2 separate regions of the Homo sapiens genome follow, and region 2 is linked to region 1. The links come from fine-mapping of genetic effects on gene expression. A gene starts in region 1. The other region holds a variant in brackets. All regions are shown on one strand. Distances are from middle to middle. Region 1 holds the start of GMNN (geminin DNA replication inhibitor). Region 2 overlaps RIPOR2 (RHO family interacting cell polarization regulator 2).

Region 1 (5,384 bases):
CCTTAATTACAATTATAAAATCCCACCACCTTTGCCTTATTGAATAACCTAATCATAGGCATAATCAGAGGTCAGAGATAATGGGTGGCATTTTAGAATTCTATCTACTGTAAGTATGTTGTCAAGCTTTTCTATAGCTGCTAGTCTGATAGTTGAAATAGTTTTTCAGAGTTTTAATTTGCATGTCTCTTATTCTCAGTAAAGTTGAGCATGGTTTTGTATGTTTAAGGACCATTCCTCTATCGTTTTCTCTGAACCGTCCATTCCTGTCTTTTGCCGATTTATCTATTGGGCTGTTGGCTTCTCCCTCTCAATGTTTTATAGCTCTTTAAAAATTAGGGAATGTAGTCTTTTATGTGTAAAAGAAATTCCCTATATTTTCTCTTACTTTATCATTTGTCTTTGCTTATGGAAATCATCCGATTTTTAAAATACAGACAATTTCCATTTTAAGACAATGTGTAGGCCACAATTGTGTATGTGAAACAAAACATATTTAATGCCCAGGGGCCACCTTCTAGACCATCTTCAATCCTTTAAATAATTCTGCACTAAAATAATCCCCTGAAGATCCTGAGTATATTATTCTTTTTTTTTTTCTTTTTGTTTGAGACGTAGTCTCACTCTGTCGCCCAGGCTGGAGTGCAGTGGCGCGATCTCCGCTCACTGCAAGCTCTGCCTCCTGGGTTCACGCCGTTCTCCTGCCTCAGCTTCCTGAGTAGCTGGGACTACAGGCACCTGCCACCATGCCCGGCTAACTTTTTTTTGTGTTTTTAGTAGAGATGGGGTTTCACCATGTTAGCCAGGATGGTCTCGATCTCCTGACCTCGTGATCCACCCGCCTCGGCCTCCCAAAGTGCTGGGATTACAGGGTGAGCCACTGCACCCGGCCAATCCTGAGTATATTATTCTTAACATCATCTGAGTCTCAAGTCCCAAAACCTTCATTAGTAATGTGTTTCATCATTTCACTTCTCTTAGCTGTGCTTATACTCATCAAAGAAATGGTTTGTCAAAAAATAAATTGGTGCAATGTAATTATTATTTATCCATCTGAATAAAAATAAAAATAAAAAAATTGGTGTAAATATTTGTGGTTGCTAAAGTTTTGTTTTGTTTTGTTTTGTTTTGTTTTTGAGATAGAGTCTCACTCTGTCACCTGGGCTAGATTGTGGTAGTGTGATCTTGGCTTACTGCAACCTCCACCACCTGGGTTCAAGCTATTCTCCTGCCTCTGCCTCCTGAGTAGCTGGGATTACAGACGCATGCCACCATGCCTGGATAATTTTTGTATTTTTAGTAGAGACAGGGTTTCACCATGTTGGCCAGGTTGGTCTTGAACTCCTGACCTCAGGGTGATCCGCCAGCCTCAGCCTCCCAAAGTGCTGGGATTACAGGCATGAGCCATGGTGCCTAGTGGTTGCTGAAATTTTTATGGCTAAACATTTTCCAGTATTTCTACCTCCTTATCCCATCATTTAATCCTTTTTAAATTAATATTTTAAAAATTTTATTATTGGCCAGGTGCAGTGGTTCACGCCTGTAATCCCAGCACTTTGGGAGGCCAAGGTGGGCAGATCACACGATCAGGAGTTCAAGACCAGCCTGGCCAACATAGTGAAACCCTGTCTCTACTAAAACTACAAAAAATTAGCTGGGTGTGGTGGCGGGCACCTGTAATCCCAGCTACTTGGGAGGCTGAGGCAGGAGAATCGCTTGAACCCGGGGGGGGCAGAGGTTGCAGTAAGCCGAGGTTGCACCATTGCACTCCAGCCCTGGTGACAGTGCAAGACTCCGTCTCAAAAAAAAAAATTATTATTGAAAATCCCAAACAGATATAAAAGTAGAGGGAGTGAATAAAAAATCTTCATGTACTCATCCATACTAGCCTCAGCAGTTATCAACACAAGGCCAATACTGTTTTATTCGCACCAGTGGTTCTCAACTGGGGATGATTTTGCCCTGCGGAAGGTTATCTGACAAGGTCTGCAGACATTTTTGGTCTTCACAATTGGGATGTACTCCTGGTAGCTAGAGGGTAGAGGCCAGGGATACTGCTAAACAGCATACAATGCCCAGGACAGCCCCCACCACGAACAATTTGCCCAGTCTAAAATGTCAATAGAGCCCATACTGAGAAAGCTTGATTTATACCTTTTCCCTTGCTTCTCTCAATAATTATTTCAAATAAAATATATGGTATAAAATTTCATCTGTAATTACCATTTATAGGTAGAAGCTATTACAATAAAACCCACAATATTGTCATTACAACTAATCTCTTTTTTTAACCCATTGCTCATCAGGTAACCTTAAACAACTCATATCTTACCATCCCAAAATATTCAGTCAGTGTTCAAATTTCCCTTGGGTATTTTTTTAAATACAGTGTTTAGTTCAGACGAGATCCATACATTGCATTTGGTAATATGTCCCTTATTTGTACTCGATAACGCCTTCCTTCTGCTTTTTATTTTTAAAATATTTTAAAATTAATTTTTTTTTGAGACAGGGTCTCCCTTTGTCTGTAGTCCCAGCTACTCGGGAGGCTGAGGCAGGAGAATCGCTTGAACCCGGGAGGCGGAGCTTGCAGTGAGCCGAGATCGCGCCACTGCACTCCAGCCTGGGTGACAGAGCGAGACTCCGTTTCAATTAAAAAAAAAAAAAAGAAGGAAAAGGCTAGACGTAATTATTACCAAGGTGTTTCTGCTCCTTCAAATTGCAACAGCAGTTGTAATTTCAGTGCCTAGAACAGTAGTAATTGGCACGTATAAGGCGCTCAATGAATAGCTGCAGGATTAACTGATAATCGGTTGTCTCCTGAACAATTCCTACCGCACCACACCATAGTCAAAACACAAAAAGCCAAAATATAAAAGCCCCTAATACAACTACGAGTCCGTGGAGCCAGGGCTTTACACAAATATATGTCGTGTACTACATATTAATATATATGCACATACAATATTTTGTTCTTCTGGTGCTAACGACTAATGGAGGCAAATCTTTCTCCCTTTCGTAAAGGGCTAAAACTTTGCATTTTAAGGAAGTTCCAAGAGCAGGGTCGGAGGGGAGGGTCAAAGGGCACAGGCCTCCCAGCCCGCAGAAAACCCCCACGGTCCTCAAGTACTCGCTACCGTTGACCGCGCAGGCGCAGGAAGGGGCGGGGCCGAGGGAAGAGGCGATTCGCGGGATCCAGAGGCCCCGCCCCTCGTCTGCGTCAGTTGGTCACGTGGTTGTTCGGAGCGGGCGAGCGGAGTTAGCAGGGCTTTACTGCAGAGCGCGCCGGGCACTCCAGCGACCGTGGGGATCAGCGTAGGTGAGCTGTGGCCTTTTGCGAGGTGCTGCAGCCATAGCTACGTGCGTTCGCTACGAGGATTGAGCGTCTCCACCCAGTAAGTGGGCAAGAGGCGGCAGGAAGTGGGTACGCAGGGGCGCAAGGCGCACAGCCTCTAGACGACTCGCTTTCCCTCCGGCCAACCTCTGAAGCCGCGTCCTACTTTGACAGCTGCAGGGCCGCGGCCTGGGTAAGGGCGAAGGGGTTGTTGAACGGTCGCGGGAGCCGGGGCGGGGTTGGGAGGTGAGTCGAGGGACTGCCCCATTGGCTGGGTCGGTTTTGGCGCGCTCTCACTTCCGCGCTTCCTATTGGCTGGCTGGCGCAGTTCCCGAGGCGCGCGCCGCGGTTGGTAGGCTCGGACGCGCGGGGCCACACTGCCCGCCCCCTAGCCTGGCGCTGGGCCTCCGGGACAAGTTGGCTGGGTCCGGGCTTGGGGACTGCAACGCGGGTAAGGGACTCAGCCTGGGCTTGCCAGCTGTGGGGATGAGGCGAAGCATCCATCCTCTTGGCAGTTAAGTGGCTGGTCCTGATCTGAGGGATCTGCAAATTTGGCTCATGGAAAGAGGTGGCTGAATTCTGCGTCTCCCATTAAACGGATACTGGCGTTGTTGATACGGGTTTCGCATGGACCCTGTCCTGTGCCAGGGTTTTTAATCTAGCTATTAAAGGAACTGGAGAATAACAAGTAAGGGTTGCAAGGTCGCTGACAGGCGTGGGAAACTTGTGAAGGATTAGAATGCTAAGTGGCTTTCAGCTTTTTTCACACTAAGGTACGTTTTACGTCGCAACCTAGGACACAGCTATCTAACCAAATGAGACGTGATGGAAGCAATGTTTCTCGTCTCTTCAATTCCATTCTGTTCAGTTGCATTTTTCTAAGCAGTGTTGCTCATGACTCACTAATTTCGAGATCACGGCCCGCGACCCGCAGTTTGAAGAACATTGCGTAGGGTCTGTTTACTGGGGCCCGAACACCATTTTCTTAACATGAAATAGAGTAGAAAATAGCAGGATGCCCGCACAAATTAGATTGTTTTGTTTTCTAAGCTTTTTTTTTTTTTGAGACGGAGTCTCGCTCTGTTGCCCAGGCTGGAGTGCAGTGGCAGGATCTCGGCTCACTGCCACCTCCACCTGTCGGGTTCAAGCGATACTCCTGCCTCAGCCTCCCGAGTAGCTGGGACTACAGACGAGCACCACCACGTCCGGCTAATTTTTGTATTTTTGGTAGAGATGGAGTTTCACCATATTGGCCAGGCTGGTTTCGAACTTCTGACCTCAGGTGATCCGCTTGCCTCGACCTTCCAGCACTTTGGTGATCATGCAGGTGATCCGCCTGCCTCGACCTCCCAAAGTGCTGGGATTACAGATGTGAGCCACCACGCCCGGCCTTTCCTAAGCTTTTTTGTTTGCACATGTGTGTGCACGCGCCAGGACACAAGGTAAAATGTATTAATGTTAGAAGCCACTGCACTGAGTAAAGGCATGGCCACAAAAATTAGGGACATCTATCGACGAGGCACAGGCGCAGACACGGCAGGGGCCAATGGGTAGTGGGCAGTGGGCAGTGGGCAGTGGAGCAGCAGTTCAGATGCTGAGTTTGGCCCAGTGGTCTAGTCAACCGCATTACATAGATCCCTTTCTACCTTTTCCCTCTTTCTTGCTTGTTAGTCCTTCAGTTCATGTTACTGGTTAAACATTTCCTACAAATGTAAATGCATGATCTCATTTGACCAGATATTAAGTCTGTGTTAAGTTATTGTCAGAGCCCAGTTTATTATACCTTAAATCTGTCTTTGAATCAGGAAAGTTAAGATGCTGCTCTTTAGGATGGACCTGGGCATACCCTAGTATCTGTTTATTTTGCTTTTTCTGGTGACTATTTAATCCAGGACAATATGTTTAGAAATTTTAAACCAGTTTTAGAAATTGGTTTAAAATACATTAATTTCATTTTTTCAGCTATAATTATTATGTGTGTATATATGTAAAATATAGATATCAAGAGTCATTAACTTTAGTCACCTTAGTCATTGACAGGGCTGAGTTT
Region 2 (5,384 bases), 34 kb after region 1:
TCCTCCCACCTTAGCCTCCCAAGTAGCTGGGACTACAGGTGCATGCCACCACGCCTGACTAATTAAACTATTTTTTTTGTAGAGACAGGGCCTTGCTATGTTGCCCAGGTTGGTCTTGAACCTCCTGGGCTTAAGCAATTCTCCTGCGTTGGCCTCCCAAAGTACTGGGATTACAGGCATGAGCCACTGCACCTGGCCTACATTTTTATTTCAGTTGTCGTGTCTCTCAGGCTCTAAACAATTTCCAGCCCAAACCACAGCACCATCCTGATGAAAAGGGCCAGATATTAAGACAGCTGTTAGGCAGTTAACCTGTAATTAAAAGGCTGTGGCAACTTCAGTTCCATGACGACCTCCGACTTTAACACAGTCTCGAGGAAATTTGTCCAATTGTTCATATGCCAGCCGCCCATCTTCTCCTAAATACAGAACATTAAACATGAATACCAATTCAAACAACGTTTTTATTAATTACTCAAAGTAACATAGTGCCATTTGTTTAGGGATGGGTTGCTATAATATGCTATGCTAACTTTTGGTAAGGAAAAGTTATCTTTTGTTATTCCTAATTATGTCATTGTTTTCCAGGTAATGCTTAGAACAACCAAGAACTTTTGAGCTAATTAATGCCAGAGACCAAAAGAATGCCAGGGTATGAAACAGAGTAGAAGTCTTATGGCCATTTGATGTTGATGATTTCATATAATCGATTTATTTTAGAGCAATTGTATGGATTATATTTTAAGTACATTAGGGATTTCAATATGGCTAATGCACTGAACTTTTACATAACTTTTACTTGTATACATTATATATCGATACATCTAAATGATATGTGGTAAAATCAATCTTAGGCTTTCAAACTTCAGCTAAAAATTACTTTTTACTATGTAAACATACAGAGATGCCTTCTACCAGCCACCAGCTAGTTCAGTTTTGTCCGTAACGCCACCTTGAACAGTTAGGATGCAATTGCAAATAATTTTAATGTTTTGTTCTATTTTTCTACTTTAAAAAATGATTTAGAAAATGAGAAAATAAAATGCAAAGACAAGTGATAAGAAGCAGGCTTTCATACATGTAATGCAAGTGAGACAAAGATGGAAATAGTTGTGCCTAATCAGAAGTTCAGCTGGGTGTGGTGGCTCACACCTGTAACCCCAGAACTTTGGGAAGCCAAGGTGAGTGGATCACTTGAGGTCACGAGTTTGAGACCAGCCTGATCAACACAGTGAAACCCCATCTCTACCAAAAAATACAAAAAAAGAGTTAGCTGGGTGTGGTGGAATCCACCTGTAGTCCCAGCTACTTGGGAGGCTGAGGCAGGAGAATTGCTTGAACTCGGGGGCAGAGGTTGCAATGAGACGAGATTGCATCATTGCACTCCAGCCTGGGTGATAGAGAGAGACTCCATGTTTAAGGTAGGCTAGGCTAAGCTATGATGTTCTGCAAGTAAGATGTATTAAGTGCATTTTTGACTTAACAGTATTTTCAACTTACAACGGGTTTATTGGGATGTAACCCCATTGTAAGTCAAGGAGCAGCTATCCTCAAAATTGAGTAAACTTAAAACTTCAGTTCCTCCATGGTGGCAAAGGTGAACAGCCCAACAGCCATTTAGGATGGCTGCTGTCATACTGGACAGTGCGCATATAGAACAATCCCATCACCATGGAGGGATCTGTTGGACAGCTCTAGGTTAAAATGTCGAAATCATTCCATACTAGTTGGTAAATAGTTGCAGCCCTGAGTCCTTTAAGTGCCCGCAATGACCTTCTGCCCTTTGTCATAGGGCATTTTATCAATTCCTATTGAAAATACTATCCTCACTATATTAATTCAGTCATTTGTGTAAGAGAAAAATGTGCCAGTATTTGTGTATTAGGGTCAAAGAAGATTCATAATATTGACTTCAGGGGGGTCTCAAACTTTATATTAGAATCACCTGGGAGGCTTCAAAAAATCCTTAAAAAATCCTGATGCCAAGGAACACTTAGACCAATGAAAGCAGAATCTTTGGGAGTAGATTGTTTAAGCTTCCCTGGCAAATGTGCAGCCAGTGTTGAGCACTGCACACTGGTGGTGTGAGAGGGCCCAGGGCTGATATGAGCAGTGTGCATGAAGAGCTAAGGTGAAGCAGGTATGGTGATGGCTTCTGGAGATGCTGCTGTTTGCACAGCTCCAGTGAGGCCCGGGGCACATTCTGTAGGATCAGCTTCCTTAGGTTACACTGGAAATAGAAGCTTCGTTGGCTATGCTTTATAA[G/A]CGCCTGGCTTACCTTCATGGTTATTTTAGAATATGAAGGGATAAAGGAGTTTAAACTAATAATACCTTGGTACATTTTTAGAGAATTAAATAATTTCTATGCCTAATACAACCATAAGGAATAACTTTTATTCTTTAAACAAATATATACTGGCTAAGATTTCTGTGGAAGAAATCATATATTCAATAGCAGAATGAAGCCTTGTTAAACCCATAATTGTAAGAAAGAGGGCCTAACAATAAATGGGATTTTCACAGTGATTATAAATGCCATGAGATTCTTCTTCATGTTGTTAAGTTAGTATCACTAAACAAGGGTAGCTTTTTTCTAAGCTGCAGTATTGATTGGATTATGTCTGAGGATTTCTAGGAGCATAGTTTTTATACTTTAAGATTGTGTTGTTGAAGTAAAATTATTTATAATAATTATTTATACTTTTTTCTTTTTTTTTTTTTTTGAGACAGAGTCTTGCTCTGTCACCCAGGCTGGAATACAGTGGCATGATCTCAGCTCACTGCAACCTCCGTTTCCTGGGTTCAAGTGATTCTCCTACCTCAGCCTCCCAAGTAGCTGGGACTACAGGTGCACCCCACCACACCTGGCTAATTTTTGTATTTTTAGTAGATACATGGTTTCATCATGTTGGCCAGGCTGGTCTCGAACTCTTGACCTCAAGTGATCCACTCACCTTGGCCTCCCAAAGTGCTGGGGTTACAGGGGTGAGCCACCAAACCCAGCTATTTATACTTTTTAATACAGAGTTAAGAAAGGCTTTCCCCACCCTCCCAAGTCCCCAAAAAAGAATAAATGTATAATGCCTGCTAGGCATGAACCTTCATAAAATAAAGTGAAGAGGAAGGATTATCTGGATATTTCAGAATAAAATAAGTACTCCAATTCTTTTCTTAGGTATCAGGGCTCAGATGGGCAGAGGCCACAGGGCAGTCAGAGGTTAACCTGGGAGTCAGGGTGAGGCTGAGATACCTGGGGATTTACAGCATTCCCTGGGATGCATCTCTGGTACCTCACCCAATTTCTGTCCTCCAGGGAATGTCAACCCCACCTGGCAACACAGCCTGGATTCCTATTGCCTTTGCTTTATGGTTTGACTTCTGTGTTCTTGATTCTAAATAGTACACAGACTGATCAATCCATATAGAAAGTCTCCAGACAATATAGTTCACTCTCAGCATCCAGACAGAACAAGGAGTTGGGGTGAGATAGACACTGATCAGTTCTTCGTACTCTGTGTGTGAGAAGACAGCCTACAGCGGGGAAACTGCTAAACAGGGTACATGAAACTTCTCCTTACTGGAGAAGGGAACATCTAAATGGGAACATCCGTTAGAGAGTGCCAGAAGCAAACAATCATGTAAACAACAACAATAAAACTCACCCAGAGACAAGAGGGTTTCTGAGGCCACATTTCTGATTTCTTCAGTATCAGATTGACACAATGTCACCAGCATTTTAATGCTTTCAGTAGCCTATGGGGGAAAAATAGGTTAAATCGTGTTTTGACATTTAGGTCTAGAGTACCACGAGACTTGGCATTTCACAACTGGTGGGAACTTTAGCCTCACTTTGTTGCCCAGGCTGGAGTGCAATGGAGCAATCATAGCTCACTGCAGCCTTGACCTCCTGGGCTCAAGCAATTCTCCTGCCTCAGCCTCCTGAGTAGCCAGGACTGATTTTTAATTTTTAACCTTTGGTACAGATGAGGTCTCACTATGTTGCCCAGGCTAGTCGAATTCTTCTGCCTTGGCCTCCTAATGTGGTGGGATTACAGGTGTAAGCCACTGTGCCCGGCCAGCTGGTAGGAATGCTAAAAACCACTTTACCTATGGGGTCAAACCTAGCTGAGTGTCTGAAACCCAATATTCCTGGGTGCCACTCCGGATGCACTATATCAGAATTTCCTGGGATGGGGCCCAGAGTTCTTACTTTCAGGAATTCTGATGATCAGCTAAATTCCTCATTCCACAGCACACTCCTGGTCTAGAGGAGTGAAGTGACGAGCTTGCTTTTCCAGAGTAGAATCCATTTTCCCTGGTTCTTTCCACTGAATCTCACTGATTCCAAAATGGCTCTAATTAAAAAATTCTTACTATTTAGTTTATATGCTAAAATAGAGGAGGAGGTAAAGGCCATTAATGACAATTCTTCTATTTGTTTGTTCCACAAATATTTATTGAGCACTCCATGAACCAGACTATTCATAAGGCATGAGAGATTCCACAGTAAACCAGACATGGTTCTGGTCCTCAAGAATTTACAGTCTAGTGGATTCAGAGTATGAAAACCCATGCAGATCACTGTATCCTTATGTCTTTATTTACTTTGTCTGTATCACAGACATCTGTCACTGATATATCACTGGATATCAGGAAAGCACCCAAATAGCAATCACTGTGGGCTTTCTATTTGGGCACCTGAAGGTAATTTTTTTTTTAACCAAGTAACAAGGCAAAATTTCCTACAGCTGTTTCTTTTTTTTTCTTTGAGACAGAGTCTCATTCAGTCACCCAGACTGGAGTACAGTGGCGTGATCTTGGCTCACTGCAACTTCTGTCTCCTGGGTTCAAGCGATTCTCCTGCCTCAGCCTCCTGAGTAGCTGGGATTACAGGTGTGCGCCACCACGCCTGGCTAATTTTTGTGTTTTCAGTAAGGATGAGGTTTCACCATGTTGGCCAGGCTGGTCTCAAACTCCTGACCTCAGGTGATCCACCGGCCTCAGCCTCCCAAAGTGCTGGGATTACAGGCATGAGCCACCATGCCTGGCCCTAGAGCTGTTTTTGATCACAGGCCATTAACTTTTTCTTTTGAGGTATTAATTCCTTTCTTTATCAGGCCTGCAGCTCTTTTCCAAGATTTTGGCAAGTTCTAAGGTGTGGCCTTCTCTCATTCTTTTTTTTTTTTTTTTTTTTTTTTTTTGAGATGGAGTCTCTGTCGCCCAGGTTGGAGTGCAGTGGTGCAATCTTGGCTCACTGAAACCTCTGTCTCCTGGATTCAAGCGATTCTCCTGCCTCAGCCTCCCCAGTAGCTGGGATTACAGGTGTGTGCCACCATGCCTGGCTAATTTTTTTTGTATTTTTAGTAGAGACGGGGTTTCATCAT

What was found. PIP is the estimated chance that this variant, and not a neighbour inherited with it, causes the effect.
Region 2: its variant is the best candidate, but not a certain one, in a credible set for the expression of GMNN in whole blood (TOPMed, PIP 0.55).

What each region holds. Positions count from the first base shown.
Region 1 is chr6:24,771,718-24,777,101 of GRCh38, forward strand. It overlaps GMNN (geminin DNA replication inhibitor), which reads left to right and starts at 3,220. Exons shown (of 7, transcript NM_015895.5): 1 at 3,220-3,527. RefSeq lists an enhancer at 4,135-4,214.
Region 2 is chr6:24,806,055-24,811,438 of GRCh38, forward strand. RIPOR2 (RHO family interacting cell polarization regulator 2) reads right to left here. Exons shown (of 22, transcript NM_001286445.3): 21 at 3,663-3,753; 22 at 1-419. The coding sequence ends at 319. Among named protein-coding and RNA genes, the nearest start is that of ARMH2, 9.8 kb to the left of the region's middle. The variant G/A (reference allele first, on the strand shown) is at 2,266.